2 separate regions of the Homo sapiens genome follow, and region 1 is linked to region 2. A link means that fine-mapping ties the variant in region 2 to the expression of a gene that starts in the linked region. Tissue or cell type: lung. Region 2 holds a variant in brackets; the other region holds the start of a gene. All regions are shown on one strand. Distances are between the middles of the regions.

Evidence for each region.
Region 1: it holds the start of CARS2, and the variant in region 2 is fine-mapped to the expression of CARS2 in lung (TOPMed, PIP 0.94).

What each region holds. Positions count from the first base shown.
Region 1 is chr13:110,694,617-110,711,384 of GRCh38, reverse strand. CARS2 (cysteinyl-tRNA synthetase 2, mitochondrial) reads left to right here and starts at 5,269. Exons shown (of 15, transcript NM_024537.4): 1 at 5,269-5,515; 2 at 5,814-5,864; 3 at 9,830-9,947. The coding sequence starts at 5,292. RefSeq lists enhancers at 4,342-4,461, 4,472-4,851, 12,523-12,682 and a silencer at 4,902-5,461.
Region 2 is chr13:110,722,088-110,738,855 of GRCh38, reverse strand. ING1 (inhibitor of growth family member 1) reads right to left here. Exons shown (of 2, transcript NM_198219.3): 2 at 15,517-16,768. Among named protein-coding and RNA genes, the nearest start is that of ING1, 17 kb to the right of the region's middle. RefSeq lists an enhancer at 12,089-12,228. The variant G/T (reference allele first, on the strand shown) is at 8,972.

The DNA of each region.
Region 1 (16,768 bases), 27 kb after region 2:
AAAAATTAGCAGGGCATGGTGGCGCGTGCCTGTAGTCCCAGCTATTGGGGAGGCTGAGACAGAATCACTTGAACCTAGGAGGGGAGGTTGCAGTGAGCCGAGATTGTGCCACTGCACTCCAGCCTGGGCGACAGAGCAAGACTATCTCCGGAAAAAAAGAGAAAAAAAGACTACGACAAGATAACATTATGTGGAAACAAACATTATGTCGAATACAGAGTATAGAGGGAGTACAAAGTTGAATAAGGAAAATTACGCCTTTCCCTCAAAAAGCATATAAGTAATTTAAAAGTACAATAGTAAGAAATAGACCGGTTCTTCTATTCCTAGCATTCATTGGCTCTAGAATGAATAGTGTTTATCTGAACTCAAGAATAAAATTGGAAGTAATTTACCCTTTACAAAGATAAGATGGAGTTTAACCTAGGTTTTCTTTTTAAAAAAAAAAATCACAACACAGTACAATCTGAGTAATGATTTTGTTCCTCTAGTTATGTACTCTCTTCACATACACATAAACCAAAAAGGCATCTTAAGCATTCAACAAGGAATATTGACGAGTGTCTACCATGTGCCAACTACTGGTCCGTGCGCTGGGGATACAGTAGTGAAAAGTTTTTTGGAGCTTTACATTCCATAAAACTTTTAGCCCACCCCTTGGGATAAAAAGTCAAAAAAGATTTTATCTTTTTTGGAACAAACTTAGAAGATCAAGCAATAAAACATAATTACCTTTGATAACGAATTTTAAATGTCATTGAAGAAAGGTGCTTAATTTTGAAGATACGTTGAAGAATCTTGTCTCTTTCAGTTTTGTTTCCTGTGGCGTGTTGCAAAAATGGATGTTAAAACTTTTCCGTAGAACAGAAATTTCAAATGGATTAAAAAGAAACATTTAAAATTAAACTTTTTTCTAAAATTATATTTCCAGTCTAACTGAAAATGCTCAAACCTATGAGAGTCAGATATAAGAGATGAACATATAATTCTTTTTCTTTTTTTGAGACGGAGTCTTGCTCTTGTCACCCAGACTGGAGTGCAGTGGCGTGATCTCAGCTCACTGCAACCTCCGCCTCCCGGGTTCAAGCGATTCTCCTGCCTCAGCCTCCTGAGTAGCTGGGATTACGGGTGCCGGACGCCATGCCCAACTAATTTTTGTATTTTTAGTAGAGACGGAGTTTTGTCATGTTGGCCCAGGCTGGTCTCGAACTCCTGACCTCAGGTGATCCGCCTGTCTTGGCCTCCCAAAGTGCTGGGATTACAGGCGTGAACCACCGCGCCTGGCCAAGCATAGAATTGTTTAAGTTTCAAAGTGCTTAAAAAATAAATGCAAACTCATTCATCTTAAACTTGAAAACCCCTAAACCATATGCTACCGTAATCAACTCTACTTCTGATTTACAAGATTTTGCCTTGAAAGAAAATGTAATACTGAGAACTTGATTTTGTTATTGTTGTCATTAAGGACTGAGAAATGGCATTAGTGATATTTTGGAATCATTAACTTTAACACACTTCCTCGTTCTGACCTAGATTGGAGAGGGAGGTGACTTCAATTAAATGGATCCTCTTTTTATGTATATATGGTGTATTAGTCAGGGTTCTCTAGAGGGACAGAACTAATAGGATGGAGATATAGATATATATAATGTATATACATATATATGTTTATTAAGTACTAACTTACATAATCACAAGGTCCCACAATAGACTGTCCGCAAGCTGAGGAGCAAGGAGAGCCAGTCTGAGTCCCAAAACTGAAGAACTTGGAGTCTGATGTTCGAGGGCAGGAAGCACCCAGCACAGGAGAAAGATGTAGGCTGGGAGGTATAGTAATGAAGAGCATTAGCAGTCTATTTTACTTTACCTTAATATTCAACCTGCAGATATTCAATATGCAAAAAGATCACATTTCTAACCATCATTAGGTAATGAGCTATGTTTCTCCTTGTTTTGATGATCCGCAAAAGCCTTAAGAAAACAGAATTAGCTGCCGGGCACGGTGGCTCATGCCTGTAATCCCAGCACTTTCAGAGACCGAGGTGGGCGGATCACCTGGGGTCGGGAGTTCAAGACCAGCCTGACTAACATGGAGAAACCCCATCTGTACTAAAAATACAAAATTAGCTGGGCATGGTGGCACATGCCTGTAATCCCAGCTACTCAGGAGACAAGCAGGAGAATTGCTTGAACCCGGGAGACGTGAGAAAGAGGCAGGAGAATCGCTTGAACCCAGGAGATCACGCCATTGCACTCCAGCCTGGGCAACAAGAGTGAAACTCCATCTCAAAAAAAAAAAAAAGAAAAAAGAGAAAAGAGAATTGGCCAGGTGTGGTGGCTTAGGCCGGTATTCCCACCGCTTTGGGAGGCTGAGGTGGCTGGATCACTTGAGGTCAGGAGTTCCAGAGTCCCAGACCAGCCTGGCCAACATGATGAAACCCCATCTCTACTAAAAATACAAAAATTAGCTGAGCGTGGTGGCACGCACCTGTAATCCCAGCTACTCGGGAGGCTGAGGCAGAAGAATCACTTGAATCTGGGAGGTGGAGGTTGCAGTGAGCCGAGATCGTGCCACTGCACTCCAGCCTGGGTGATAGAGTGAGACTCTGTCTCAAAAATAAATACATAAAAATAAAAATAAAAATGCAAAAATTAGCTGGGCACGGTGGTGTGCACTTGTAATCTCAGCTACTGTGGAGGCTGAAGCAGGAGGATTGCTTGAACCAGGAGGCAGAGGCTGCAGTGAACCCAGATCAGGCCACTGCACTCCAGCCTGGGTGACAGAGCAAGACTGCCTCAAAAAAAAAAAAGAAAACATAATAGAATCACTGCCAGTGAGGGGCTAAAAACATTACATGAATTTTCTGAAGACAGAAGATACTATTGTTAATTTAAAAGTTGTGATGTTCTATGAACAATTCAAATATACCGCATGTCCAGATTCATGTGCAGATTTGATCTTCAGTGTTACTAAGCTGCTTTCAGAATCTCTGCTCCAGTTATTTCCTTGAATTCGTGTGTTCTCACAGATTGCAACTGAGCTTTTTGTTAATTTGCTTTATTTACTGGCACATCTAATATCTGAATCAGCTTTATCAGGTATTTTACTACCCAGATTTCTTCCCACCTGCACAATTAATCCCTTTCGTAAGGGATTAATTCATCAACATTCAACAAGCCCTTTTATTTCTTCTAAATTTTTTTTTTCCAGCCACAGCAAAACAAAACAAACAAAACCCAAGTCCTTTTCTGAATTTAGTGCAGGGCACAGTGAGAAGTTCAAAATAATGTACAATTTAAGATACTCAGGGAGATAAATATACACACAGCACTGGAAAGTTACAAAATAACATAAGGCAGGCAAGAAGTGATAATATTCAGGAGAATTTAGAGTAGTTAGGTAACATGAGTGGTTAGCATTGATGTAGGCTATAGGGTCTCCTAATTCTAACATTTTAACCTTATTAAATTAGACAATAGATTACATTAGACTACAGTTAGCTTGAAACAGAATTGCAGAGTTGGACTCCAGGATATTGAGAAACTACTCTAGGTACACACTTGTTTGTCTCTACTTAAACCTTTGCTTTTTAATAAAACACCAAAGCAAACTAAAAACAACAACAAAAAACCAGAGGAACGTCTCCTGTTTTGAGAACTGGAAAAGCAAAGGGGACTTTTTCTTTTTTTTGAGACATCGTATTGCAAGACACCAATAGAGGCACTTTTTTTTTTTTTCAGGCGGAGTCTCCCTCTGTTGCCCAGGCTGCAGTGCAGTGGTGTGACCTCAGCTCACTGTGAGCTCTGCCTCCTGGGTTCAAGCGATTCTCTTGTCTCAGCCTCCCCAGTAGCTGGGACTACAGATGCACGCCACCACGCCCGGCTAATTTGTGTATTTTTAGTAGAGACGGGGTTTCACCATATTGGTCAGGCTGGTCTCGAACTCCTGACCTCAGGTGATCCATCCGCCTCAGCCTCCCAAAGTGCTGGGATTACAGGTGTGAGCCACTGCGCCTGGCCCAATAGAGGCACGTTTGTCAAGCTATTGTGAGTAACTTTCAGAATGTTTTTGTTCTCAAGATACGGGATCATGGTGGGGGAGGCATGCTGTGTATTGGAGTGCAGACATGGTGTGTGTTGGGTTGCACACTGTGTATTGGGGTGCACACTGTATTGGGGTGTAGATGTGTGGGGGCGCACACTCTATTGAGGTGCACATTGCATTGGAATGCAGACAGTGTTTGCTGGGATGCACATGTGCTGTGTTGGGGTGCACACTGTACTGGGGTGCAGACATGGTGTGTGTTAGAGTGCACAGTGTATTAGGGGTGCACACTGTATTGGGGTGTACACTGTACTGGGGTGCAGACATGGTGTGTGCTGGGGTGCACACTGTATTGGAGTGCACACTGTATTGGGATGCTGATGTGGTGTGTGCTAGGGTGCATACTGTGTATTGGGGTGCAGACTGTATGCTGGGTTGCACACTGTGTATCGGGGTGCACTGTGTTGGGATGCTGATGGTGTGCTGCAGTGCACACTATTGGGGTGCAGATGTGTGTGCTGGGGTGCACACTGTATTGGGGTGCACACTGTATTGGGATGCTGATGTGTGTGCTGGGGTGCATACTGTGTATTGGGGTGCACACTTCTTGGGGTGCAGACTGTGTGTTGGGTTGCACATTGTGTATCGGGGTGCACTGTGTTGGGATGCTAACGGTGTGCTGCAGTGCACACTGTATTGGGGCGCAGATGTGTGTTTGGGGTGCACACTGTATTGGGGTGCACACTGTATTGGGGTGCTGACGTGTGTTCTGGGGTGGACACTGTGTATTAGCGTGCTGACGTGGGCTGTGCTGGGATGCACACGTGCTTCGCTAACAGGCCAGGGCCCGGCAACAGAAGCTTGCACTGTAAACGCTCCTCCCGCGCGGCGGACACAGCTCCAGGCTGGTACCGCGCGCACACGGACGCCTCGCAGGACCTGGGCTAATAAGGAGAGGAGATCGGCACGGTACCGCCTCTTCCCACGGCCTCCCGGCGCGGCACCGCCCTCCTCCCTCCACCCCGGGCCTTCCCCGCCCCAACCTCTTCGGGCCCTGGTTCTCCACCCTTGCCGCGGGCGACTCGAGCCAGGCCAAAGGGAGGCGCTACCTGAGGACTGCTTCCGGGAGTGGGCGTGGCCCCAAGGGCGTGGGCGGGGCGGGGCGGGGCCGTGCTGCTCTTGAGCGACCGGCAGCGTACCCGGCGTGGCTCCCGTCTCCGCCCAGTCGTAGGCGCTGGCCGCTGACATGTTGAGGACTACGCGCGGCCCAGGCCTGGGCCCCCCGCTGCTCCAGGCCGCGCTGGGCCTTGGGCGGGCTGGGTGGCACTGGCCTGCGGGCCGGGCGGCGAGCGGGGGGCGCGGGCGGGCCTGGCTGCAGCCCACGGGCCGGGAGACGGGTGTGCAGGTGTACAACAGCCTCACCGGGAGGAAGGAACCCCTAATCGTGGCGCACGCCGAAGCCGCCTCCTGGTGGGCCGCGCGGGACTGGGGCACGGGCGGGGGCCGATCGTGGCGGAGACTTCCCACGGCTGAACGGGATCTGGGCTCGGGGAGGGCGTTTAGGAAGCTGCATGGAGGGCGCCGTTCTAGAAGCTGGGGGTGCGCGGTGCTTTTGCAGGTTTGGGTGTGAATTGAGCAAGTATGAAAACCCCGGCTATTCATCCCCCAGAAGTGATTACTTTAAAAATTATATGATCATTATAACTCAGAATCGAATGTCCTTTCTTGCAAATATGTTCCACACGATGGATTTTAACTTTGTTTCCAGGTATAGCTGTGGACCAACTGTATATGATCATGCGCACCTTGGCCATGCTTGGTGAGTTTCCTGGATTTGAATTTTCATACTTCAAAGGACCATTTATTTTTGAAAGCCTTTTGCTGATTTCTTTTATCTCTTAAGTGGCAACTTAGGGATGCAGAATAATTCCTACATTCCAGGCATTGTGGGAAATGTTACAACCTCATTTGGTTCTTATAGGGATTCTGAGCACTTACACCCGTTTTACAGGTGAGGAAACTCAGGGAGACAATGGAGCACTGAAAAATGACCCGTTTTGGAACTAGATGTTTTTTGCTGGGTTTAGTGACATCAAGAGGCCTTTGCGGGGTCCCGGGGTCCTGCTGATCAGTCATTCCTGGGCCCCACCACTTCTTAGCTTCACAGCACTGAGCAGGTCACTTTATTGCTTTGAGTCCTGGTTTCTTCATCTTTGAGATGGGAATGATAACTTGGATCTTATAACAATTTTAGTAAATAATGCCCATAAAATGCTGCTTAACACTGTACCTCACATGTGAGATGTCACGGGGCTCAATAGTGATTGAGTAACTTTCCTAAGATGACACATTGAAGAGGTATTGGAACTGGGGTGAGGCTTGGTTTCTCTGACTGCGAAGTGGTTGCTCTCTTGACCTCTTTAACTGTAAGATGTACTGCCTCCTACATTTGCCAAAATTACCACTTTTCCTAATATTTTGTACATTTCCAAAATATAATGTACAAAAATGACATATTATAGATTTTTTAAAACTTAGTATTGTTCAGTCCTAGACTAAAAGTAAAAAGTTACATTTACTCTGTATACTTTTTTTTTTTCTTGAGACGGAGTCGCTCTGTCGCCCAGGCTGGAGTGCAGTGGTGCAATCTCGGCTCACTGCAACCTCTGCCTCCCAGGTCCAGTTGCCGCCTCCTGGCAGCAATTCTCCTGCCTCAGCCTCCGGAGTAGCTGGGATTACAGGCATGTACCACCACGCCCGGCTAATTTTTGTATTTTTAGTAGAGACGGAGTTTCACCATGTCAGCCAGGCTGGTCTCGAACTCCTGACCTCAAATGATCCACCTGCCTTGGCCTCCCAAAGTGTTGGGATTACAGGCATGAACCACCATGCCCGGCATACTCTGTATACTTTAAATATACATTTTTCCCCTTTACTTTGGGCTAACATACTTTTAATTATCAAAAGCATATTTCGACATCTTTCTTGAATTATAAAATATGTTGGGGAAATATTAAAAACAAAACCCCCACCCTGGAAAACCTTTCCACAAAGGTAGAAGAGAAAGAAAACAGTTCTGTTACTGAATAAGCCTTAAACCAGAAGGGGATGAGCTAAAATAACTGCAAAGACAGAAAGAAATCTCATCCTTCTATGGAGCTTTGGGGATACAGCCTGTCTCAGTCTATGAGTCTGCTGTAACAAAATATCCTAAAATGGATGACTTATAAACAACAGAAATTTCTTTCTTTCTGGGGCTAGGAAGTCCAAGATGAAGGCACCAGCAAATTTGGTGTCTGTTGAGGGTCTGCCTGCTGTGTCCTCACATGGTAGAAGGTAGAGGGAATTCTCTGAGGTCTCTTCTATGAGGGCATTAACCCCAGTCATGAGCTCTCTGCCTCCATGACTTTGTCACTCCCAGAGGCTCCACCTCCTAAAACCGTCACCTTGGGAGTTAGGGTTTCAACCATGAATTTGGAGGGAAGACAAACATTCAGACCATAGCATAACCCATTGCTTCAGGTGAGTTACAGTGTGGAGTCAGATGACAAGGTAGGCCCATCTCCTCCCAGGACACTGGGAAACGGGGCGTTATTTTCCTTGATTACATTTCAGAGGTGGGTCCCAGGTTTTGAAATTTTCTTGAGTTGTAAAACTGCCAAGAGGTTTATTTAGCCATTTAAAAGATTGACATGCATTTGAAGAGGACTGAGGAAGAAATCCTAAAAGTTGTTGGGGAGAGAATCTCTTCTCATTTCCAACTAGGAGAGTCAAGTCTTGCAGTTTAAATTTGTATAATATTTACCTTTATGACTACAGAAAAGAATACACATCTTAAGTGCGCAGCTGAATGCATGTTATAAGCTGTGTCCACACAGGGCCTTCCCAGGGGCTGGTGGGAGCTTGGGACTCTCCTGTTGACCACCTTCCTGTCAGCCTGGCCAACCCCTCCAGGCCTTTGCTGGGCTGGCCTGCCCCACCTCCCTCTCCCCATCTCAGCTCTCCTAGCATTGTACTCCTTCAGTGGTTATTTATGCAACCATCTGATGTCGTTAGCATGATGTAATTATTTCAGCTCCAGCAGGACAGGGATGCACACAGTGCCTGCTGCAGAAAGGTAGAATTTGAGCAATGGGTAGCACTCAGTTCACTGGAAAGAGACACCCTGAAAAATAGCCTCCACCATTTCCAGAAGAGGTCAGAGGGATGGAAACCCTGTTTGGGGAAAACAAATAGATCAGTTTGGTGCTAGGGGGGAGGAGCAGGGGAAGGGATGGGGCGTCAGTTGCAGCCAGACTGGGGAGGGTGCTGCGTGGTCTGGCCCAGAGAGTTTGGATTTCATGCCATGGTAGACGGAGTCACACTGGAGCGTTTTGAGGGAAGACTCTTAGCAAATGAATCATTTCAGCGATCACCCAGATGAGCACACTCACCCAGTGGATGGAGAAAATGGGGCAGAAAGAGCCGGGCTGACGGTAGCATGGTTCATGGTGGAGTCACAGAAGCAAGCTGAGGTCTCCTGATGCCATGTTCTTCAGACTTGGCTGCCCGGCACTTGCAAGGCGTGTGTGTGCGTGTTTGTGTATAGAGTGGCCCCTGTGGTCACAGCCTGCCTGCAGCGTCTCAGGGTCTCAAATTGCTCATGACCCTGCATTCCGCCAGCTCTGCCAAGCTGTGGAGCCTCTGCTGTCTCCAAGGGCAGTTCCGGGACTCAGCCTGGGCTCCTCTGGGCCAAGCAAGGGACTTGACTCTTGTTTTCATTTGCTTTAGGTTCCTGTAATTTTTTTCTTGTAAATCTCACATCTTTTAGACTCTTTCCCAACTTGAGGTGAATGAAGGAGCATGGTGATGAGAATGGTAATAATAGCTTGTGTTTTTAGAATTCATGCTGCACAGGCGGTAAGGCTGGACAGCAGTCCTGTTAGGTGGTGGGATTTTGCCAAATTTATAAGCAAGCCGACTGAGCTGTAAGAGGTTAATTATCTTGTTGAGTTTTGGAGATAGTTTTGTCCCTGGAATCAAGATTTGGTCTCAGCTGTGTTTGGAGAGGGAGGGGGTGTGTGGGAGGTTAAAGTGATACAATAACATGGCTAGGATTCCCCCACACCACCCTAAGAGAAAACAATTTTACGAACTGAAATTTAGGCCACATGGATAGCAGAGGTGAGTGTGACATTAGATAACCTTGAGTTTTAAGGTAACTTTTATGGGAAAACAGATTCTTGAGATGCTAAGTAGATTTTAAACCCTTTTAGTTTTACAAGTCTGAATTACCCCAGTGTAGTATATAAATAAGCTGGCATTTTTAAATATTCTACACTAGTGTGTGCATTCTTAGGAGTAATCTTATATGGCTTTAATGGGATCGTACTTGTTTTGATTTGGTATTTGCTTCTGTTTTGTCATAGTGAAAAATTAGAATTACTCTAGAACATGAACAAGAATGGTGAAAACACGATCTTAACTGAGAGATTGTATTATGAGTGAATTTTTATACAATTAAATAGACTTCAACTCACTTAAGCAACAACTCCAAAATTAAAAATGCTAATATTGTGTCCTGAAATTGATGCAATACCTTTGTCAGTTTCTCCTGAGAACCCTTGTGGCGCAGGCCCTGGTGCCATCAGTGAGAGGGAGTTTCCTTGTACCTGCTCCGCTGACCTGTCCATTGTGCTACACAGTAGAAGTTATGGAGCAGCATGTTAAAATGTAATGGATTTTTTACAAAGATAACTGATGACTTTGTGTAATAAAGACATCCTGACACTTTTTTTCTTTCAGCTCATATGTTAGATTTGATATCATTCGAAGGATCCTAACCAAGGTTTTTGGATGCAGCATAGTCATGGTGATGGGTATTACAGATGTAGATGATAAAATCATCAAAAGAGCCAATGAGGTAAGTGGAGAAGAGTTACATCTATTGATAATGCCATTGATTAGTGTTCTGAGCCCTTCCTGAAAGTGGTTCTTGGCCGGGCGTGGTAGCTTACGCCTGTAATCCCAGCACTTTGGGAGGCCAAGACAGGTGGATCACTTGAGGTCAGGAGTTTGAGGCCAGCCTGACAAACATGGTGAAACCTTGTCTGTACTAAAAATACAAAAATTAGTCAGGTGTGGTGGCGGGCTCCTGTAATCCCAGCTCCTCAGGAGGCTCAGGCAGGAGAATCGCTTGACCCTGGGGGGGCGAAGGTTGCAATGAGCGGAGATTGTGCCACTGCACTCCAACCTGGGTCATGGAGACTCTGTCTCAAAAAAAAAAAGAAAAAAGAAAGTGGTTCTTGTTTGCATTTTACAAGTAGTTCTCACATCTTATTGTCCATGTGTGGCCAGTGGGTGTAATCTGAGACATGAAACAGTGCTGGGTTAGCAGGGTTTCTTTGGTGCCCTAGTAAAGGAAGTTAACATCTATCGTATTGTGATCGCTGAAGGCTTTTCTGTGGCCTCGTGTCGTTACCTCCTTCTGTGGTCGTCTCCTGGCTCCAATCTTACTCCCTCCCCTGGCCCCTCGGCCTCCAAGGGAAATGACTTGACTTTCTCTTTACTGAGGGAACCAGACCCACTGATTGGACGTATTCATATTTGTGCTAATGATGCCTTTCATGTCTGTGTCTTGATAGTTTAAAAAGTACTTTTTGTATCTATTAGTATTTCAGTCTCAGAACAACCCTGTGTGCTGCGCAGAGCAGACCTTATTGTGCTTTTTTTAACACATTTTATTCCATATTAAAAAATTATTTGAAGCGATTTGAGATCTACAGAAAAATGACAAGAATAGTACAAAGATCTCCTGCAGCCACCCTGGGTTTCCTCGTGGCCATTGTTGGCTGCGTTGGGCCATCATCTTCTCTCTGTTCTAGACTTTTCCCACCAGGCCGCCTCCCCTCTCTGCACACGCCACGCGTGCCTTCAGAGCAAGGTCACTGGCTCTCGAGGCCCGCACAGCCCTCCCAGTCAGGAACCGGACATTGATGCAGTGCGCTGGTGTGGGTGACATGGACGTCAACCCCAGGTGTTGTCCCTGTCCCCGAGCGCCTCTTTCTTTTCTGTTCTAGAACCCCTTCCAGAGTCCTGTTGTCTCCTCGGTCTCCTTCAGTCTTCAGTAGTTCCCTGTCTCATGTCCTTGACACTGTCAAGGATTGTAGGACTTTGATTTTGTAAGGTGGCCCTCCACTCAGGTTCATTGGATGTGTCCCCATCTTGCAGAAGAGTCAAGAGGTTAAGGTGATCACATCTTGAGGTTGCACAGACCTTCAGGGGCAGGGCCACTCCCACAGCTCTGACTTCAGCTATCTCTGGGCAAGTACCCCTGCCAGGTGGGAATGGCCTGCGCACTTGTGGCGGGTAGCAGAAGTCTCTTTCCCGTGCAGGCTGAGGGCCCCACTGGAGTCTGGCCCACACCTGGAGTGTGGTGCCTGGCAAGCTTTGGGAAGACACAGTGGATGAGGTTGTACAGGCAGGTGGGACATTGGAGGCGCCTCCTCGGGCTCTCCCTGTTGGCTGGGGGCCAGTGCCCCGCACATCACTTCTACCGGAAGGGCTTTGGTGGGTCCTTTGACTTTAACTGCTGGTGAGGAAGACTTTTCCTAAAGAAGCCATTCTGATGAAACGCTGTCACTCTTTGCCCCACATGCTGTCTTGTGTCGGCTTTCTCCATTGCGGGTGCTTCCTCTAATCACCATTCTCTCTGGACATTTTTGCCCATTTTCACAATTCACTGTGGTTTAGCATACAAGACAGTCTATTCATTTGTGTGTTAGTTAGGATGACTGGCTATTTCCTTTTCCTGAATCTGATGAAGGAATTTAAGTAAAGCTGACCTAATTTTGATGTAGACGAGATGTAGTCTTGTGATACTTTGCCAGTTACCACTGCTTTTACCAGCATGTGTTACAGTGGAAATGTTCTAACATACATGAAGTAGAGAGAAGAGCATATGAACCCATGCACCTGTCACCGGCGTCCATGGTCAGCACCTGTTCCACCCCTGTTCTCTCTGCTTTTTGTGGAGACCACCTGTGGATTGTCCAGTGGTGGGCTGCTGTTTGGCAGTTTGACCCTCCAAGAGCATTAGACGGTGTTTGTCTTAGTCTGTTTTGTGCTGCTGTAACAGAACACCACAGGTTGGGTAATTTATAATGAATAGAAACGTATTTGCTCACTATGCTGGAGGCTGGAAACCAAGATCAAGGTGCCAGCATCTGGCAAGGGCCCTCTTACTGCATCATCCCATGGTGGAGGGCAAGAGGTCAAGGGGAGAGAAAGAAGCCCTGCCAAAAGCCCCCTGCCCCCACCCCTCCTTGGGTTTTTTTTTCTTTTTTTTTGGAGACAGGGTCACACTGTGTCGCCTAGGCTGGAGTGCAGTGGTGTGGTCATAGTTCAGTGCAGCCTTGATCTCCTGGGCTCAAGCTGTTCTCCCACCTCAGCCCTCCTGGTAGCTGGGACTCAGCTGTGCACCACCACACATGACTAATTTTTTTCTTTTTTCTATTTTTAGTAGAGATGCGGTTTCACTATGTTGCCCAGGCTGGTCTCAAACTCCTGAGCTCAAGCAATCCTCCTGCCTCGGCCTCCCAAAGTGCTAGGATTACAGGTGTGAGCCACTGCACCTGGCCGGAAAGCCCTTTTAAGAAGGCATGAAGCCCATCCAAGAGGGTGGGGCCCTCACGGCCTAATCACTTCTTCAAGTTCTCACCTCTTAATACTGTTACAAGGGCAAATAAATTTCAACATGAGTTTTGGAGGGGACAAACATTCAAACCATAGCAGTGTTTCTGGTGCTTTTTAAAAAAAACTTGCTGGATTTTTTTTTTTTTGAGACAGAATTTCACTCTTGTTGCACAGGCTGGAGTGCAATGGTGCTATCTCCGCTCACTGCAACCTCCACATCCCGGGGTCAGGCGATTCTCCTGCCTCAGCCTCCCGAGTAGCTGGGATTACAGACACCCACCACCATGCCTGGCTAATTTTTGTATTTTTAGTAGAGACGGGGTTTCACCACGTTGGCCAGGCTGGTCTCGAACTCCTGATCTCAGGTGATCCGCCCTCCTCGGCCTCCCAAAGTGCTAGGATTACAGGTGTGAGCCACCACGCCTGGCCTGGATTTCTTTTTTTGAAAAAAAAATATACATATACATACTTTTTAAGTCAGTGAGATTTGAATTATAGCATTTGTCTGTCATTGTGGCTTCCCTTCCTCTTTAACCTCCCGTCACACCCATGCATCTTCCTTTTGTGAAATGGGGTGGAACTAGTGACTAAAGATTTGGATTGGAAGTCAGAGGCCGCCTTTGGGCTGGGGCGTTTATCTGAAAAGAGGCTGAACTTTGTCATTTGTTGAGTGAACAGAGCTCTTCTCTTGTCTCTTAGGCATGAGTCAAAGGAATGGTGTGAGGTCCTTGAGGAACATTTTCACTGAGGTCTCTGTCTTCCTATTTTCTATTGATTTGTCTTTCTCATAACTGGGTAGTCTCCCACCGCATGGGGCTGTTTAGCAGTTCTAGCCTTTTCCCAATTGCTGTTTGTATTGCTTCTGGCTGTTAAAAAGAGTGCTGCTATGAACATATATGCTTTTGTTTTGTTTACTTATAAATATATTTCCTGTGGCTGGGTGCAGTGGCTCACGCCTGTAATCCTATACTTTGGAAGGCTGGATCACTTAAGCCCAGGAGTTAGAGACCAGTCTGGCCAACATGGCAAAACGCTGTCTCTACTAAAACACAAAAAATTAGCTGGGTGTGGAGGTGTGCACCTGTAATCCCAGCTACTCGAGAGGCTGAGACACGAGAAGTACTTGAACCCGGGAGGTGGAGGTTGCAGTGAGCTGAGATCGTGCCACTGCACTCCAGCCTGGGCCACAGGGTGAGACTCTGTCTCTAAATAAAAAGTTAATTAATTTCCAAAGCGGAATTGCTAGGTCAAAGGGGGAACAGTTTATTTGATATCTTGCAACTGAGAGTCAGATCATTGAGAGACTGGCAGTGCTGGAAATCGGCTCCCACTTTAAATGTATTTCTTCACATCCTTACCCCCAGCCTATAAGAGGCAGGATTTAGAAGGCAGGTGCGTGATGTCTAAGGCTGTGCGTGAATGTCTAGTCACCAGGTAACCCTCAGCAGAGGTGGTGTTTGGAAATGCCCCACTGGTAAAGAAGGAAGGTCAGTGGTTCGGGGCTTTCACCTGCCGTCGGGGCAGCCAGAGCCTGAAATGAAAGCACTTGGTAGCTTCGTGCCTCTCATGAATCTTCAAGATCAGAAAGAATTGTGTCAGTCCCCATGTCCTGGTGGCAGGGAGCTGGTAGAGGCTGAGACACTGGCTGAGTTCTGGAGGGAGCCCCATGGGACAGAGAAAGGGCCCCGCAGGGGATGGGAGGAGAGGTGAGGACACAGTGTACTTGGAGGGTGTCATGGGGGCGATGGGGAAGGTGGGGCAGGAACGTTGCCATCAGAGAAGCGGGACAAGAGCCCCGAATCCAGGGAGCAGAGAACTGCAGGAAGGAGGAGGTGGCCAGCGTGGTAAAGGGAGGAAGAAGCAAGAGTTAATTTCACAGATGCCACAAGGAGGGATTGGTTGTTAACTTTTTTAAAAATGTTATGATTAGAATATGAAAAACTTGGTAGAATTGGTTAAACATTCTAACTGTAGAGAGTAGTTAATTTTTGAACCAGAGAATTTCCATACTTGGTACACAGCAAGATCCTAAGATGGTATTGAATAGTTTCTTTCCTCAAAATAATGTCTGACTTCAATGTAATAAAACATGTATCTGAAACCCATAGTTATGAAAACATCTGTTTTTTAGTATTTAGTGAAAAGGTAATTCTTTAAGAAATGCAAATCAAAACCACAGTGAGATAACATCTCATGCCAGTTAGAATGGCGATCATTAAAAAGTCAGGAAACAACAGATGCTGGCGAGGATGTGGAGAAATAGGAACGCTTTTACACTGTTGGTGGGAGTGTAAATTAGTTCAACCATTGTGGAAGACAGTGTTGCGATTCCTCAAGGATCTAGAACCAGAAATACCATTTAACCCAGCAATCCCATTACTGGGTATATACCCAAAGGATTATAAATCATTCTACTATAAAGACACATACACACGTATGTTTATTGCAGCACTGTCCACAATAGCAAAGACTTGGAACCAACCCAGATGCCCATCAGTGATAGACTGGATGAAGAAAATGTGGCACATGGAATACTGTGCAGCCATAGAAAAGGATGGGTTCATGTCTTCTGCAGGGACACGGGTGAAGCTGGAAACCATCATTTTCAGCAAACTAACACAGGAACAGAAAACCGAACACCGCATGGTTCTCACTCATAAGTGGGAGTTGAACAATGAGAGCACATGGACACAGGGAGGGGAACATCACACACCCGGCGCCTGTCAGGGGTTGGGGGGCTAGGGGAGGGATAGTATTAGGAGAAATACCTAATGTAGATGACGGGTTGATGGGTGCAGCAAACCACCATGGCACGTGTATACCTGTGTAACAAACCTGCACTTTCTGTACATGTGTCCCAGAACTTAAAGTATAATTTAAAAAAAAAAAAAGGTAATTCTTTTTATCCAATGTAAACTTTTTTGAAGGTAAAATTAAAACTTTTATTTTTCTTCTTTACCTTTTTTATAATATAAAATTTACGATTTTAAACATTTTTAAATGTGCAATTCAGTGGCATTAAGTACATTTACAGCATTAAATGGTGCATAATTCCTCAAGGTTCATCCACCTGCAGCCTGTGCCGGAAGTTCCTTCCTTTTTATGGCTGAATAATGTCACATTGCATGTACACTCTCCTTGCTGTCTATCTTCTGAATATATATGCTTTTGTTTTGGTTCCAGGACCCCCTCCCCACATACCAAAATCCTTGGATGCTCGAGTCCCTGATATAAAATATATTTGCACTTAATCTATGCACATCTTCCCATATACTTTAAATCATATCTAGATTACTTTTAATAACTAATACAATGTAAATGCTCTATAAATAGTAGTACTATATTTTTTAAAAATTTGTATTATTTTTTATTATTTATTTAGTTTTAAGATAGGGTCTCACTCTGTTACCCAGGCTGGGGTGCAGTGGCATAATCACGGCTCACTACAGCCTCACCCTCCCAGGCTCAGGGATCCTCCCACTTCAGCCTCCAGAGTAGCGGGGACCACAGGCATGTGTCACCATGCCCAGTTAATTTTTGTATTTTTTGAAGAGACAGGGCCTTCTAAGTTGCTCAGGCTGGTCTCTAATTCCTGGGCTCAAGCAACCCTCCTGCCTTGGCCTCGCAAAGTGCTGGGATTACAGGCATGAGTCACTGTGCCTGGCATTATTTCTTAATATTTTCTATATGAGATCGATTGAACCCACAGATGCAGAACCCTAGGATACAGAGAGCCGACTGTGCTGCGTTTTCTTTACCCATATTCTTCCACCGTTGGACATTGGGTTTCTTCTCATGCAAGCTTTTAAAATGATAACAATATCTTTCGTGCCATCTGCTCCAAGACTTGTTTTTAAAATATTTTAAATTATAATAATACACTTTCCTGAGTCACTCCCTTGACTTTAATTTTTGGCACCATTTTATAGGTTGTCAGAGATGGAAAGCACAGGTTTTAAACAAATCTGGGGTAAGAATTAAAAGAGGTAGGATATATTCACATAGTAACATTTTGTTTTGTTTTTGTTTTGAGACAGGGTCTCACTTTGT
Region 2 (16,768 bases):
TCTGCCTGGACATCCAGACATTTCCATACATCCTCTGAAATCTGCACAGAGATTCCCAAGCCTCAATTCTTGTCTTCCTCTCACCCGCAGGCCCAGCATCACATAGAAACCACCAAGGCTTGGGACTTACACCCTCTGAAGCCACAGCCTGAGCTGTACCTCGGCCCCTTTTAGCCACAGATGGAGCTGGAGTGGCTGGGACACAGGGTGCCATGCCCCAAGGCTGCACAGAGCAATAGGATCCTGGTCTGAGCCCATGAAATCATTTTTTCCTTCTGGGCCTCTGGACCTGTGATGGGAGGGGCTGCCATGAAGCTCTCTGAAATCCCCTGCAGACATTTTCCCCATTGTCTTGGCTATTAACATTTGGCTTCTCTTTACTTATGTAAATTTCTGCAGCTGGCTTGAATTTCTTCCCAAAAAATGGATTTTTCTTTTCTACCATTGTACAGGCTGCAAATTTTCCAAATGTTTTATGCTTTGCTTTCCTTTTAAATAAAAGTTCCAATTTCAGACCATCTCTTTGTGAACACATACGACTGCTGTCAGGAGCAGCCAGGTTATTTCTTGAATGCTTTGCTGCTTAGGAATTTCTTCTGCCAGATACCCTAAATCATCTCTCTGAAGTTCAAAGTTCTATAGATCTCTAAGGCAGAGGCACAATGCCACCAGTCTCTACTAAAGCATAGCAAGAGTGAGCTGTACTCCAGTTCCCAATAAGTTCCTCGTCTCCATCTGAGACCACCTCAACCTGGACTTCATTATCCATATCATTGTCAGCATTTTGGTCAAAACCATTCAACGAGTCTCTGGGAAGTTCCAAACTTTCCCACATCTTTCTGTCTTCTTCTGAGCCCTCCAAACTATTCAAACTGCCCATTACCCAGTTCCAAAGTAGCCTCCACATTTTCAAGTTTCTTTATAGCAGTATCCCACTCCAGATACCATAATCCATATTAGTCCATTTTCATAGGATTATAAAGAACTACCTGAGGCTGGGTAAGTTATGAAGAAAAGAGGTTTAATTGACTCACAGGTCAGCACAGCTGAGGAGGCCTCAGGAAACTTACAATCATAGCAGAAGGAGAAGGGGAACCAAGCATGTATTACATGGTGGAGCAGGAGAGAGAGTGAGCAATGGGGGAAGTACCCCACATTTTCAAACAACCTGATCTTGTGAGAACTCACTATCATGAGAAGAGTAAGGGGGAAGTCTGCCCCCATGATTCAATCACCTCCCACCAGGCCCCTTCCCAAACACATGGGGATTACAATTGGAGAAGAGATTTGGGTGGGGACACAGAGCCAAAGTATATCCACCATATACATATAGCATATACATATATACACATATATACACACCATATACCATAAATATACACAGACGCATATACGTACATACATGTATAAAATGTGGGTATATATGTACATATACATATATGTATATGCATATAGCACATATATACACATAGAGTAATATATATGTACATGTATATACATAGGACACACACAAAAGTGAAAACTTGTAGAAATAAAAGAAACTAACAAATCCACAACCATATAAATTACATGAATACACTTTTCTTAGAAATTGACAGATTAAATAATTGTGGCTACACAATGTCTAAATAATAGGAGATTGACCACATGCAAGAATATCAGAGGGACAAAAAGATTTCTAAAAAGCAGAAATCAGGCCAGGTGTGGTGACTTATGCCTGTAATCCCAGCACTGTGGGACGCTGAGGTGGGCAGATCATGGTCAAGAGCTCGAGACCATCCTGGCCAACATGGTGAAACCCCATCTCTACTAAAAATACAAAAATTAGCTGGGCGTGGTGGCACGCGCCTGTAGTCCCAGCTACACTGGAGGCTGAGGTAGAAGAATCACTTGAACCCGGGAGGCAGAGGTTGCAGTGAGCTGAGATTGTGCCACTGCACTCCAGCCTGGTGACAGAGTGAGACTCCATCTCAAAAAAAAAAAAAAAAAAAAAGCAGAAATCATGAGGACCAGAGAATGCCTGGCCACAGCATCATAAAATCAGTGATAAAATTAATAGGATAGCTGAAGGAGAGTATTATACCTATGAAAAATTTAAAATGTGCTTCTAAGTAACTACTCACAGAAAATATAAAATTAAAAATACAGTCTATTAGAAATGAATGACATTATAAATATGCAGGATGCAAACAAAGGAGTATTTGGATGAAATTTTACGGTGTTAAATTCATGTATTGGAAAACCAGAAAGACTGAAAATACAAGAGGCTTTTAACTCAAGAAGCTATGAGAAAAAAAACTGAAAGAAATGTAAAAATCAGGCTGATAATATAATAAATCAATAAAAGAAAAATAATAACAGGCCGGGCATAGTGGCTCATGCCTGTAATCCCAGCACTGTGGAGGCCAAGGCAGGTGGATTACCTCAGGTCAGGAGTTCGAGACCAGCCTGGCCAACATGGTGAAACCCCATCTCTACTAAAAACACAAAAATTAGCCAGGGGTGGTGGTGTGTGCCTGTAATCTCAGCTGCTTGGGAGGCTGAGGCAGGAGAATTGCTTAAGCCTGGAAGGAAGAGGCTGCAGTGAGCCAAGATATCACCATCACACTCCAGCCTGGGCAACAGAGCAAGATTCCATCTCAAATAAAAAAAATAAAAAAAAGAATAGATTTAATCAATAAAACCAAATACTGGTTTATTGTAAAGATCAATTAAATGGACTAGTATGTGACAAGCCAATTTAAGAAATAAGAGAGAAGATACAATCGATAATATTAGAAATGAGAAAGGTGATACAACCAGAGTCATCAAGGTGATGAAAAAGTAAGTGCTATGTTCAACAGTATGCCAATGCATTTTAAGACCTAGATGAAATAGAACATTTTCATGGAAAATATAATATGGGATAAAGAAAATAGAAAGTGATAACACTGAGTCAAGAAGAGATAGAGGCCAGGCACAGTGGCTCATGCCTGTAATCCCAGCACTTTGGGAGGCTGAGGCGGGCAGATCATCTGAGGCCAGGAGTTCAAGACCAGCCTGGTCAACATGGTGAAACTGTGTCTCTACTAAAAATACAAACATTAGCCAGGCGCAGTGGCATACCCCTGTAATCCCACCTACAGGGGAGGCTGAGGCAGGAGAATCGTTTGAACCCAGGTGGTGGAGGTTGCAGTGAGCCGAGATCGTGCCACTGCACGCCAGCCTGGGCGACAGAGCAAGACTCTGTCTCAACAACAACAACAAAAAAAAGAGATAGAGACCCTGAAGAGAAGAAATTGAAAAGGTAGTCAAAGACTTACTGCAAAGATTATTGTTTGCCTATTATTTCTAACAAATATTCAAGGGACAAATAATTCCTTGAAGAGGAATTTGCCCTCGAAGGATAAATAAATGCTTCCAGGGCATTAAAAAAAAAAAAAAAAGGTAAACCTCCTAAATTCATTCCATAAGGTTAATATACTCCACACACACACACACACACACACACACACACACACACACACACACACACTACAAGAATAGCTTTTTTAAAAGCCCCATCTCAGAGACACAAACTTACTAATAGAATATTATCAAATCAGGCCTGTCATACCAGCACTTTGGGAGGCCCAGGGAGCCGGATCACTTGAGGTCAGGAGCTCGAGACCAGCCTGGCCAACATGGCGAAACCTTGTCTCTACTAAAAATACAAAAATTAGCCGGGTGTGGTGGCGGGTGACTATAATCCCAGTTACTCGGGAGGCTGAGGCAGGAGAATCACTTGAACCCGGCAGGTGGAGGTTGCAGTGAGTCAAGATTGTGTCACTACACTCCAGTCTGGGTGACAGAGCAAGACTCTGTCTCAAAAAATTATCAAATCAAATACAGTGGTGACTAAAAGAATAATCCATCACAGCCAGGAAGAGTCCATCCCAATAATGCCAAGATTTTTCGAAATTCATTTATTATTATTATTGTTTTTTAAGCTACATATGCTGGAATGGGATCAAAATTTACTGAATTGAAAAAAAAAAGGCCAGTATGGTGTCTCACATCTATAATCCCAACTGCTCAGGAGGCTGAGGCAGGAGGATTGCTTAAGTCCAGGAGTTCAAGGCTGCCGTGAGCTTTGATCGTAGCACTGCACTCCAGCCTGGGTGACACAATGAGACCGTGTCCCTAAAATAAATAAATAAATGGAGAAGATCCACACGTAGCTCACATAGCTATCCTCAGCCTCAACCCCAAAAAAGTATTTGACAGAATTCAGCATTAACTTCTGGCAATACTCTAAAAATACCAAAAATCATAAAAGAAACTTGCCTGTACCTGACAAAACAATATTTTTTGGAAATACCTGGCACATCAGAATAATGGTGACATATTCAAAGCATTTCCATTTGAATCAGAACAAGACTCTGATGCCTGCTATTGCCAACTGTACTTAACCTTTCATTGAAGTCCCAGCTCATTCAGTAAGAGGGAATTAAAGGACGAAAGGAAAGGAAGCAGAGATGCCCACTATCAGTCACGGGCATGGCACTGGCAATGTTGTACTGACAGTCCTCTACCTAGAAAGTCTACGAGAGTCAACTGACAAACTTCTAGAACAAATGAGAAATATCAGCAAGGTGGCCAGATCTGAGATCAACCTACAAACATTAACTTGTTATTACATGTAAATAGGAACCAATGGAGCAAAGTCATGGAAAAAAGATCCATGTGTGGTAGCAACTAAAACACAACACACCAGAAAGAAATGTGAAGAAAACTGTAAAATATAACTGAAGGCTATCATAGATAGCGTGAATAAATGGAAATACTTCATATTCTGCATGAGAAGATTCATGTTCCAAACGTATAGGTGTTCTCCAAGTTAATCTATAATCATTAACGGAAGTGATATGGTTAGGATCTGTGTCCCTGCCCAAATCGCAGGTCAAATTGTAATCTCCCTTGTTGGAGGAGGGGCCTGGTGGGAAGTGACTATGTCATGGGGGTGGATTTCCCCCCTTGCTGTTCTTGTGATAGTGAGTTCTCACAAGATCTGGTTGTTTAAAAGTGTGTAGCACCTCCCCCTTCACTCTCTTTCTCCTTCTCCGGCCATGAAGGACATACCTGCTTCCCCTTTGCCTTTCACCATGATTGTAAGTTTCCCGAGGCCTCCCCAGCCATGCTTCCTGTACAGCCTGCAGAACCATAGGCCAATTAAACCTCTTTTCACAAATTACCCAGTCTCGTGCAGTTCTTTATAGCAATGCAAAAATGAACTATACAGGAAGCAAACAGAGCGCTTGCCTTATTAAATATTAAAAAGTACTATAAAGCTAGTGAAATGAAAACAGTGAAGATTTTTCACTGACATAAATGAATAAATCAGTGGAAACTAACTGAGACACCCACGTGTCTATGAAAATTTAATATATCATAGAGCTGACATTTCATGAATGAGAAGGTAATGGAGTATTCAATACTGGCTTGAGACAATGACCATCTATTTGAGGAAATACTTAGAGGGGTTAATACACATCATTAAGTTATGGCCACTTTTACATATATTATCTGATATGGTTTGGCTCTGTGTCCCCACCCAAATCTCATCTCGAATTGTAATCCCCACATGTCAAGGGAGGGACCTGGGTGAGTCATGGGGGTGGATTTTCCCCATGCTGTTCTTGTTACAGTGAGTTCGTTCTGACAAGCTCTGATGGTTTAAAAGTGCGGCACTTACCCTTTGCTCTCTCTCTCTTCTTCCACCATTAAGACGTGCCTTGCTTCCCCTTCACCTTCCGCCATGATTGTAAGTTTCCTGAGGCCTCCCCGGCCATGCCGAACTGTGAGTCAACTAAATGTCTTTTCTTCATGAATTACCCAGTCTCAGGCAGTTCTTTATAGCAGTGTGAAAATGGACTAATACATTATCTCATTTGAACGTCGTATGAATTAACACTCTGAGGGGTAGGCATCATTACTCATTTTATAAATGAGGAACGAAGGGTCAAGGAAATGAAGAAATTCCACCCAGATCACACAGCTGGTACGTGCCAGAGACTGAAACCAGGTCCTCTGGCTTCAGGGCCAGCACTCTTTCCCTATACCACATGGCATCCCTCACATTCTTCCATTTTGTCAAAGAATTTCAGTGACTCCCCACCCTAAAAACCAAAATAAATTCCAGATGGATAAAAGAGATATTTGAAAAACATGTAAAGACTGTAAGAGAATATTTTATAATTTTGGGGGTGGGAACAACTTTCTTAAGCAAAATATAATATAAATTCTGTAAAGAAGAGAGCTCAGACATGATGATCTCAAAAATTTAAAGCTTTGTTATGACAAAGATGCCATAAACAAATATAAGATAACAGACTTGGAGAAAATTTTTGTCTGTAATAAATAGAAAAATTAATCATTTTAGAATAAATACAAATGGCCAATACCATCTGAAAAGTTGTACAAAGGCAACAGAAACAAGGGAAGCGCAAATTATATATTCTTAATACATATGTTTATATACCTAAAATATACAATATGAGCCAGGTGTGGTGGCTCACGCCTGCAATCCAGCACTTTGGGAGGCTGAGGCGGGTGGATCACCTGAGGTCAGGAGTTTGAGACCAGCCTGGCCAACATGGCGAAACCCTGTTTCTACTAAAAAAAAAAAATACTAAATTTAGCAGGGCATGGTGGCAGGCAACCATAGTCCCAGCTACTTGGGAGGCTGAGGCAAGGGAATTGCTTGAACCTGGGAGGTGGAGGTTGCAGTGAGCCAAGGTTGTGCCACTGCACTCCAGCCTGGGTGACAGAGCGAGACTCTGTCTCAAATAATAATAATAATAAAATATACAATATGGATATATTATATATGTATGTACTATATATGTAATATTTTAATTATAAATATAATGTATTACATAACTATGTATAAATGTTTTTTCTCAAGACAGGAAAAATTCTATTTGGTTAATATCCAATGACAGCAAAGGTAAGGAGAAGTAAGTACTCACAGATGCTGGTGGGATATATCTTAAAGTAGATAACATAGAAATCTTAGAGGCCTTCCTGGAACTGGGCTTAATCAGATGTCAGCATGGTGGATTAGCATGTAAGAATGGAGTTGCCTTAGCCTCTACAGATGGTGTGAAAACCTTTTTTGCTAAAATTTTATTTCTGTGTATCAATCATAGAGAAATATTCATATGCAGGATGAAAACAATACACAGATATTTATCTCGGAATGGTTTGCCATAAAGAAAAATTTGAAACACTCTAATCATTGATCATTAAAGGAATGTTTCAATTATAGCATATCCATAGGACATAATTGTTTGTGATAGTTAATAACATGTCAATTAATTTTTATGTATTGATATGGAATGACCAACAGGGCAAAGTATTACACAGGGGAAAAAAATTGCTTATTGCAAATCAATACATAGGGTATGATCGCATTTCTGTAAAAGAAAAAGTAAAGCAAAACTGTATCTTTACATAGGTATTGTTCTGGTTATCTACTGCAATATAACAATTCACCCCACAGTGTAATGGCTTAACACAGTGACATTTAATTTGCTCATGAATCTGCCATTTGGGCAGGGCTGGGAAGGGACAGTTTGTTTCTGCTCCACTGGGTGTCAGCTGGAAGCTGGGGCTGGTAGCGCCTTCAAGCGATCTTGCCCATGTATCTGATGGTTGGCACTAGCTACCAGTTGGGACCTCAGCTGAAGAAATGGCTGGAACACCTGTGTGCAGCCCTTCCAGGAGGCAGACTCCCAAGTGTGAGCATCCACAGACAGGAAGGGATCAGTCAGAAACTGTGATTGTTGCGCTGCCTTGGAAGTCTCATGGTGTCACGTCCCATGCATTCTCCACGTTAACCCAGGCATACAGGCTCCTCTGCAGTTAAGGGAGGGAAACCAGGCTCCACTCGGATGGGAGGAGTGTGAGGTTTGTGCACATTTCAAAACCACCCTAAAAGTGTGTGTATCATCTCATAGAAAAAGAGCTGTGGGCTGGTCATGGTGGCTCAAGCCTGCAATCCCAGCATTTTGGGAGGCCAAGGCGGGCAGATCGCCTGAGGTCAGGAGTTCGAGACCAGACTGGCCAATATGGTGAAACCCCGTTTCTACTAAAAATACAAAAATTAGACAGGCGTGGTGGTGCACACCCATAATCCCAGCTACTAAGGAGGCTGAGGGAGTAGAAGTGCTTGAACCTGGGAGGTGGAGGTTGCAGCGAGCCGAGATCCAGCCTGGGCAACAGAGTGAGACTCTGCCTCAAAAAAAAAAAAAAAAAAAAAAAAAAAAAGAAAGAAAGAAAGAAAAAAGAAAAAGAGCTGGAGAGATAGATGCCCACCAACCGCTGATGACTGTTGACTTGGGGAAGTTGGGAGGATTGGGAAATAGAGGTGGTGGGTGAATTGGTTAGTATGCAAACCCAGCTTGAACTAGCTTAAGAACAAAAGGATTTATTGACCTCCATAACTGACAGTTCCAGGGTTCATGTGGCTTCAGGGGTTTCAACAATGCCATCAGGACACTGTATTTCTCTCCATTTTCCAGGCTGACTCTCTGTGTGCTGGGTAAGATACCACCAGGTGTCCAGGCATACATCCTCATGGTTTAGCAGCAACAATGAAAAGACAAAAGGTATTTTTGCTGGTGGCTCCAGAAGAAAAGTCCCAGGAAAGATAGGTAGTGATGGATGTGGGGTACCTGCCCATTCATACCCTGGTCACTGTGGCCAGCAGGGTGGGGCACCTTAATGGACAGACCTTGGTCACATGCCTACCTCTTCAGCAACTGCTTGCCATTTTTGCTCTGATTTCTTTTGTGTTGACACACGGAGAATTCTCTTGTGTTTCCTCTTGGGTATGTATTTAAAACCTTTCCCTTCCCCCATATTTCATACAAAATTTGTATGTGTTTAGGGACTAGCCTAGTCCACCATGTTGAAACGATGCTCTTCATGGCTTCTATAAGATTGAGCA[G/T]ACCAGCCTGGGCAACATGGTAAAACACTGTCCCTCCAGAAAATACAAAAAACTAATTAGCTTGGCAGGGTGGCGCACGCCTGTGGTCCCAGCTACCAGGGAAGCTGAGGTGAGAGGATCATCTGAGCCTGGGAAGTGGAAGCTGCAGTGAGCCAAAATCTTGCCACTGTTCCATAGCTTGGGCGACAGAGCGAGACCCTGTCTCCAAAAAAGAAAAAAAAGATTGATAGTACCAACTGACTTCCTGCTGTCTGGTTGATAGCCATTAGTTTCCAGATCTTTGTTTCTAGGTTTGACCCTCTGCTTTCCCTGCACTAGAGGAATGTTGGCCTGGCACCCTATAAAAAGATTTCAAGTCGCCCCATCATTGAAGAGAGGAACACAACGCCTTTGGTAATAGAACAATATTTTATCCCATGAACACACTGCAGTGACATAATTTCACAGTAAAGCCAGAAATGTCATTCATTAGCTTCTCCCCTATGCTGGATATTAAGAATATAAATAAAACTGTCATAAGAGTCATTCTACAAAATAACATTATAGAAATATAAGAGGAAATAAAATTAGTAAATCTGTCCATGTATTTTGGTTCCTCAAGAAACAGTATTCCTGGTATTATTAAATTTGTTCTTCTATGGTCTATTTATGTCTTATATTTTTCAAAATTTAGGTTGCACTGCATCCTCAGTGGCAGGAGTTGTAACCTCATGTAAGATCTGCCTCACACCAGTGTCCTGTGAGAGCTTATCACAGTCCTCCCGTGCTGCTTTCCTTTGACCTTTCTAGATCATTCCTGAAGTATGGAGCCACATGCAGTAAGCCTCACAAGCTGTTTCCTAATTGTCCTCACACATTCTATTCCCATTCCTCCCCTGCAGTGCAATCTAGCTGTTACTTCTGTAGACTGGGTTCTTAGCTGCTCATCTTTTTATTCTCCACATCCGACTTGGCACTTTCTAAAGAATTAACGTCTTGACTGGGCGCAGTGGCTCACACCTGTAATCCCAGCACTTTGGGAGGCTGAGGTGGGTGGATCACCTGAGGTCAGGAGTTCGAGGCCAACTTGACCAACATGGCAAAACGCCGTCTCTACTAAAAATACAAAAATTAGCCAGGCGGGTGGCTGTAATTACACGTGGCGGGTGCCTGTAACCCAGCTACTCAGGAGGCTAAGACATGAGAATCGTTTGAACCCAGGAGGCGGAGGTTGCAGTGAGCTGAGATCGTGCCATTGCACTCCAGCCTGGGAGACAGAGCAAGACTCCATCTCAAAAAAAAAAAAAAAGAAAGAAAAAAAAAAGAATTAAACTTCTTGGTCGAGTGTAGTTTTCAAAATTTGCAAAGTGAAATGGTTCTTACCAGCCTTCCAAGATGCCAAGGAAGGTCATCCTTGTATATCTTGACTTTCAACTACCTCATATTATTGAAGATCTTTGTGTCATAAAAGTATTTCATTGTTAGTTGACTTCTAATTTCTCATGTTTATGGAACAGATTGATGGTGCAAAGAGTCATAAATATTTTGAAAATTGTGTATATTGGCCATGGAAAACTATAATTTCCCCTCTTCCATCTAACTTTTACTTACTTTAAAATACAAAAATTAATTTCCATTCCCTGAACACATCCCAATTAAAGGGAAAAGAATTAAGCCAGAGCCAGTAGCTGTCAGGGTGGCACAAGCGTCTATTCAAACACAGCACCTATCAGGGCAAGTGTTTGTTTTTGGTTTTGGTTTTGTTTTTGAGACGGAGACTCGCTCTGTCGCCCAGGTTGGAGTGCAGTGGCATGATCTCGACTCACTGCAACCTCTGACTCCCGGGTTCAAGTGATTCTCCTGCCTCAGCCTCCCGAGTAGCTGGGACTACAGGCAAGTGCCACCACGCCTGGCTAATTTTTTGTATTTTTAGTAGAAACGGGGTTTCACCATGTCGGCCAGGATGGTCTCAACCTTCTGACCTTGTGATCCACCCGGCTCAGCCTCCCTAAATGCTGGGATTACAGGCTTGAGCCACCACACCTGGCCGGGGAAGTGTTTTTAAAATGGAAAGATTTGCTCTAACATAGCACCTGACTGTCCACAACAGACTCCAGCAGCTCAGTGTCCACCACACCATCTACCCCTTGGCCACGGTGAGCCTCGTGGATGGGTCTCCACCTGGTCCGCACTGTGTCTGAACACATCTGTGCTGCAGAGAAAAATCCTTGCTGCGGTGTCCTCATTGCTCTTCCGATTCCTGAATTTTCTGACACTTCTCTTATCTTTCCTGTCTTTGCTTGAGACATAGTCAATTATTGTTACTTGCAACCAAAAGATGCTCAAATAATAGAGAAAATAAGTATTTATCTAACAATTTCTTATGTTAAATAAACACTTTGGGAGACAGCAAACTGTTTCCAGGCATCTTTGTAAATGGATACATTGTTAAACTCTGTGATTGATCATTACATTTGTTTTTATAAAATTTTATAATAAAAATTTTATAATAAAAATAAAATTTATTAAATGTAATAAAAATATTACATTAATGTCTCAAATATTACATGTCTCAAATATGTAATGACATTACATGTCATTACATGTCTCGTTACATTACATGACATTACATGTCTCATTACATTAATGTCTCAAATATTAATCATTTAGAAATATTGCATTTCCAATGGCATACAGATTTATCCAAAAATATTCCCTTCACACAAATCAAACTGAAATTCCCTTTTAGGTGTGTTTTTAGAACTGGTTTCCAAGTTAGAAAAGAAAATGTTTCATGTTTAAATGTCAATTCTTGGATTCAGGCTTTACTCTACACGTCTTTATTAAAGGCCTATGGCTTAACACGAGAGACCCACGGTTCCTAACGTCCACATAAATGAGAACAGGTGCACCCATGAAACAGCATGGCTGATGAAGCGGGGGAGTGGCTCTGGCCTGGAGTAACAGCACTTCATCCTGCCGGCAGCCCCACCACCAACTCACGGAGTGCCTTTGAGGAAGTGGCTTCATCACCCTTGGGCCTCGGTTTCCTCACCCACACAGTGAAGAGATTGAATGAGATTTTCTGCCTACTCTGAATTCAATCAAGAGGTGAGTCAAAAGGAAGTTTAGTAGGCTCTGATTGCTACTAAAAATAAAAATTCGATGTATTTACTTCTGTGTTCTACAACGAGAAATGGAATTGTTTATAGAAAAGCAGCCATGGAGGACTTCCTCCTCGTGCAGCAGGAACCTGGCAGTGACCGCTAACATGCTAAGGGTGGACTTGATTCTCTTTAGCTGTAAGGAATCACAAGTCCATTTTTTAAGAATACATGTGTTAAACTAGAATAATTTGACCAAAAATATTACTCAAATTGTTATCTGTACAGTGCTCTAGCATTTCTGAAGTATTTTCAGACATTAACAAGTCTGGGCCTCCACTCCTGGGATGGGCATTATCACTGTCCTTATTTTGCTTCTGAGAACATTGGGTACAGAAGAGTGACTTCCTTGAGGTTAACCTGTGATAAACTAGTCCTGATTCAAATCTGACTTTGACTCTCATGCTGATTCTAGCACCGTGCATGGCTCCTAGTGAATTGCTTAAAACCTTGCAGGTAGGCTGGGCACGGTGGCTCATGCCTGTAATCCCAGTACTTTGGGAGGCCGAGGCGGGCGGATCACCTGAGGTCAGGAGTTCAAGACCAGCCTCACCAACATGGAGAAACCCCGTCTCTACTAAAAATACAAAATTAGCCAGGTGTGGTGGCGCGTGCCTGTAATCCCAGCTACTCGGGTGGCTAACGCAGGAGAATTGCTTGAACCCGGGAGGCGAAGGTTGCAGTGAGCAGAGATTGCGCCATTGCACTCCAGCTTGGGCGAAACTCCATCTCGAAAAAACAAAACAAAACAAACAAACAAAAACCTTGCAGGTAAATTACAATCCTAAAATTCACTGTAGGGCAAAACAAGAAACTTGAAGTAAGCATCCTGGTTTACCTGGAGGAAAATCAGAAGCATGAGAACTTGGTAGTGCAAATACCCGTGGCTCCTGCAGATCCCTTCATTCAGGCAAAGAAGCCCAGCAATTAAGACTTTTTCGCTCTCTCCTCCCGTGAGACCATGAGCGTTTCTTTCACCTTCTATGGCTTTCTCAGTTGTAAGACCCCCACAGAGCTGGGAGGACAGCACACTCCTGGCATGTTAGGCGTTCAGGGAAGACCAGCAGCAACGCCAGGTCCTGACCATGAGGAGGCCTCCGGGTGCCAGGCGGTGGTCAAGGATGCTGGTTTTGGAGCCAGATGCAGGGCGTTGGCCTTGTGCAAGTCAGGTCCCTGGCTGGAGTCTCAGCACCTTCATCAGGAAAAGCAGCCATTTTTTGGCAGGGTTGTCATAAAATATGAAGTATGCAGTGCTAGCAATGTCTAGCATATAGGAGGCAATAAATGGTGGCTATATTGATATACATACACCACGACACTGAGTACCTTTATTTAAAGTTGCCTGCTGAAACAAGCATTTTCTTGTTTCGTAGAAAATTCTACTTTAATATAAAATATTATACCATTGAAGAGTTTGGATGTGTAACTTGTGATGCCTTAGAAAAATATCCTAAGGGGCTAGGTGCTGTAGCTCATGCCTGTAATCCCAGCACTTTGGGAGGCTGAGGCGGGTGGATCACCTGAGGTCAGGAGTTCGAGACCAGCCTCACCAACATGGAGAAACCCCGTCTCTACTAAAAATACAAAATTAGCTGGGTGTGGCGTGGTGGCGCCTGCCTGTAATCCCAGCTACTTGGGAGGCTGAGGCAGGAAAATCTCTTGAACCCAGGAGACGGAGGCTGCAGTGAGCCAAGATTGCGCCATTACACTCCAGCCTGGGCAACAAGAGCAAAAATCCGTCTCAAAAAAAAAAAAGGAAAAAAGAAAAAGAAAAAAATCCTAAGCACAAAATAAATTTTTCTAACCACTTCAAAAAAAAAAAAAGAAAAAAAGAAAATTTCTACTTTAGCCAGGCACGGTGGCTCACACCTGTAGTCCCAGCACTTTGGGAAGCTGAGGCAGGTGGATCACCAGAGGTCAGGAGTTCAAGACCAGCCTGGCCAACATGGTAAAACCCTGTCTCTACTAAAAATACAAAAATTAGCCGGGTTTGGTGGCACACGCCTGTAATCCCAGCTACTCGGGAGGCTGCAGCAGGTGAATAGCTTGAACCCAGGAGGCGAAGGTTGCAGTGAGCCGAGATCGTGCCATTGCACTCCAGCCTGGGCAACAAGAGCAAGACTCTGTCTCAAAAAAAAAAAAAAAAGAAAAGAAAAAAGAAAAAGAAAAATTTTACTTTAATGGAGTTTACTGGCTCCAGTCAAGATTTAACCTGGGCTGGGCGTGGCGGCTCACACCTGTAATCCCAGCACTTTAGGAGGCTGAGGCGGGCGGATCACGAGATCGGGAGTTTGTGACCGTCTGGCCAACATGGTGCGACTCTATCTCTACCAAAAATACAAAAAAATTAGCTGGGCGTAGTGGTGCATGCCTCTAATCCCAGCAACTCGGGAGGCTGAGGCAGGAGAATCGCTGAACCCAGGAGGCAGAGGTTGCAGTGAGTTAAGATCAGGCCACTACACCCCAGCCTGGGTGACAGAGCAAGACACCGTCTCAGGGGAAACAAAAAAAAAAAAAAAAAAGATTTAACCTGTTACTCAGTTTGTAGTAGCTTCTTTTCAGATTGGGGTTTTTAATTGGAAAAATACCAACCCCATCTTTATGAACAGTCAAGTAATACAGAGTATTTGAGGTAAGGAAAGAGAACTGGCCTAATGATTTTCTTCATTCCAGTTATAGAATTCCTCTCATTCTTTTGGTGGCACAGGGGGCACAGCTCACTAATGTTTGGTTTGTTAGAAAAAAATGTAATAGTTGGATTCTCACTGATGAGCTGCTTAAAAAACAAAGACGGAATAGTTAAAATAAATACTCTGAAACAAAGCCCCTCATAAAAAGCCTCAGGAGGCAATTTTGACTTAGTAACACAACACACATTTGCTCTCCCACCTCCTTCCCATTAGCGGTGTCTTCCTAAGCCCTCCACGAGTTCACAATGAGAGCCTGTGCAGAGAACACGAGTGCCTCAAGAAATGCAGTCACGGACTAGCAATTTTTCCAGATTAAAAAAACCCCGGAAATCTAGCCCCCAAGGTGCTGAGAACTGCCTGGACTCTGCGATGAAAGAGGCACATTCTACACGCTAAAATGGAGAGGGAGGCAGACAGTATCAATAAAACCTCTCTCCATATATGCCAAGGATTCTAGAGCCATAAATTACATTAGATAGAAGGAAAAAAGCTAGATGTCCTCGAGAGCACATCATGTCTTTAGAAGTGCACAGATGAAGCTCTTAATCATTTTGCCTAAGAAAAAGATTTAATACTTTAATGAAATATTGAAGTGTTCAGGTAAGTTCCAGGTAACTTATTACCTGGAACACTACATAAATGTGAACTACAAAAGGATATCACAACTAAATGTGTACTCTTTCTAAAATAATATATAATAAGAGGAAATGGCTTTTACTTTGATAAATGCTTTATTCAGCATTGGCAACCACCGACAGTCTCAAGTATTGAGACAACTCACATAGCTCTAATCACACCAAAAGAGAACCACCAGCCAACGTCCCAGTCACTGGCAAGTGCGTGCCTGCAGGTCTGTGACTCCTGCAGCACCTCTCTCAGCACCTGGGGAGCCTGTCCCAGGAACACCATGGCTGCTCAACACTTCCTTGAACATACAACGTTTCTTTAGTCCAGTTTACAATAGAAAGTATTATATCATAACGAAAACACTTTGGACCCTTTATCTGAACTGTAATAACTTGGTTATTATACAACAAATATGCATTGAACATCTAAGTAAAAGCAACTGTTCTATATTAGATCGCTTTTCAGTAATCTATTTTTCAAAAAGAATTCAGTACCATTTTTGTCCTCATGTCGGGATTCCAGGATCTTTCTATTGTATCTAATCATGATCTAAATCCCAAATCTTGAGTGTTTTAAGTACTTATCTGTGATTTTTTTTTAATGTCCACTGGAAATAACAAGAGTGATTTAAGACTGCCAGTCCAACACGACTCTGTATTGTATCTATTTTTTTTTAAAGAATAAGTGGCTACCCACCTGTCCTTATGAGAAACTTGAAGAAAGCTAGAGAAAAATTATCCAACATTTGAATATGCCAGTGCATTTATTTATTGGAACCACCCTCTGTGAAACATACTTTAAAAGTGTAGAACTATAGACCAACTGTTAAGCAATTTATTCAAGATCAAGCCCTTAAAGGACAGGGCTGGGCTCCTAGATTGCAAGGCTTGGCCTCTGAGCCATCTCTCTTCACCAGTTGTCTACACCAAAACTGAATATGAAGAAATCCAGGATGAGCAACTGCATTTCATTGAATCTTCATTTCTATAACTTAATTTGCATTATTACCTCCAATTAATATAGAAGTGAAAAATTAGCATGAAATTTTATATAAGCAAAGACTCAAGCTATTTTTATTGTCACTGGATGTTTATTAAGTATTTTAGTTTCATAACTTATTTTCATAAACCTTTTGTTCACTATTTGTTTGGGTAAATCTCATCAAATTTAAACACCCGAGACTCTTAAATGTTCTGGAGTTTTGTGGGAAAATAAACACCTATTTGTAAGTATTGATATGTAAAAAGTTCAAATTTTAGTATATGACCAACTACAATTTGCATTTCTCTACCAAGTAACCCTCTATAATGGAATTTCACTGTAAAACAGACACTTAT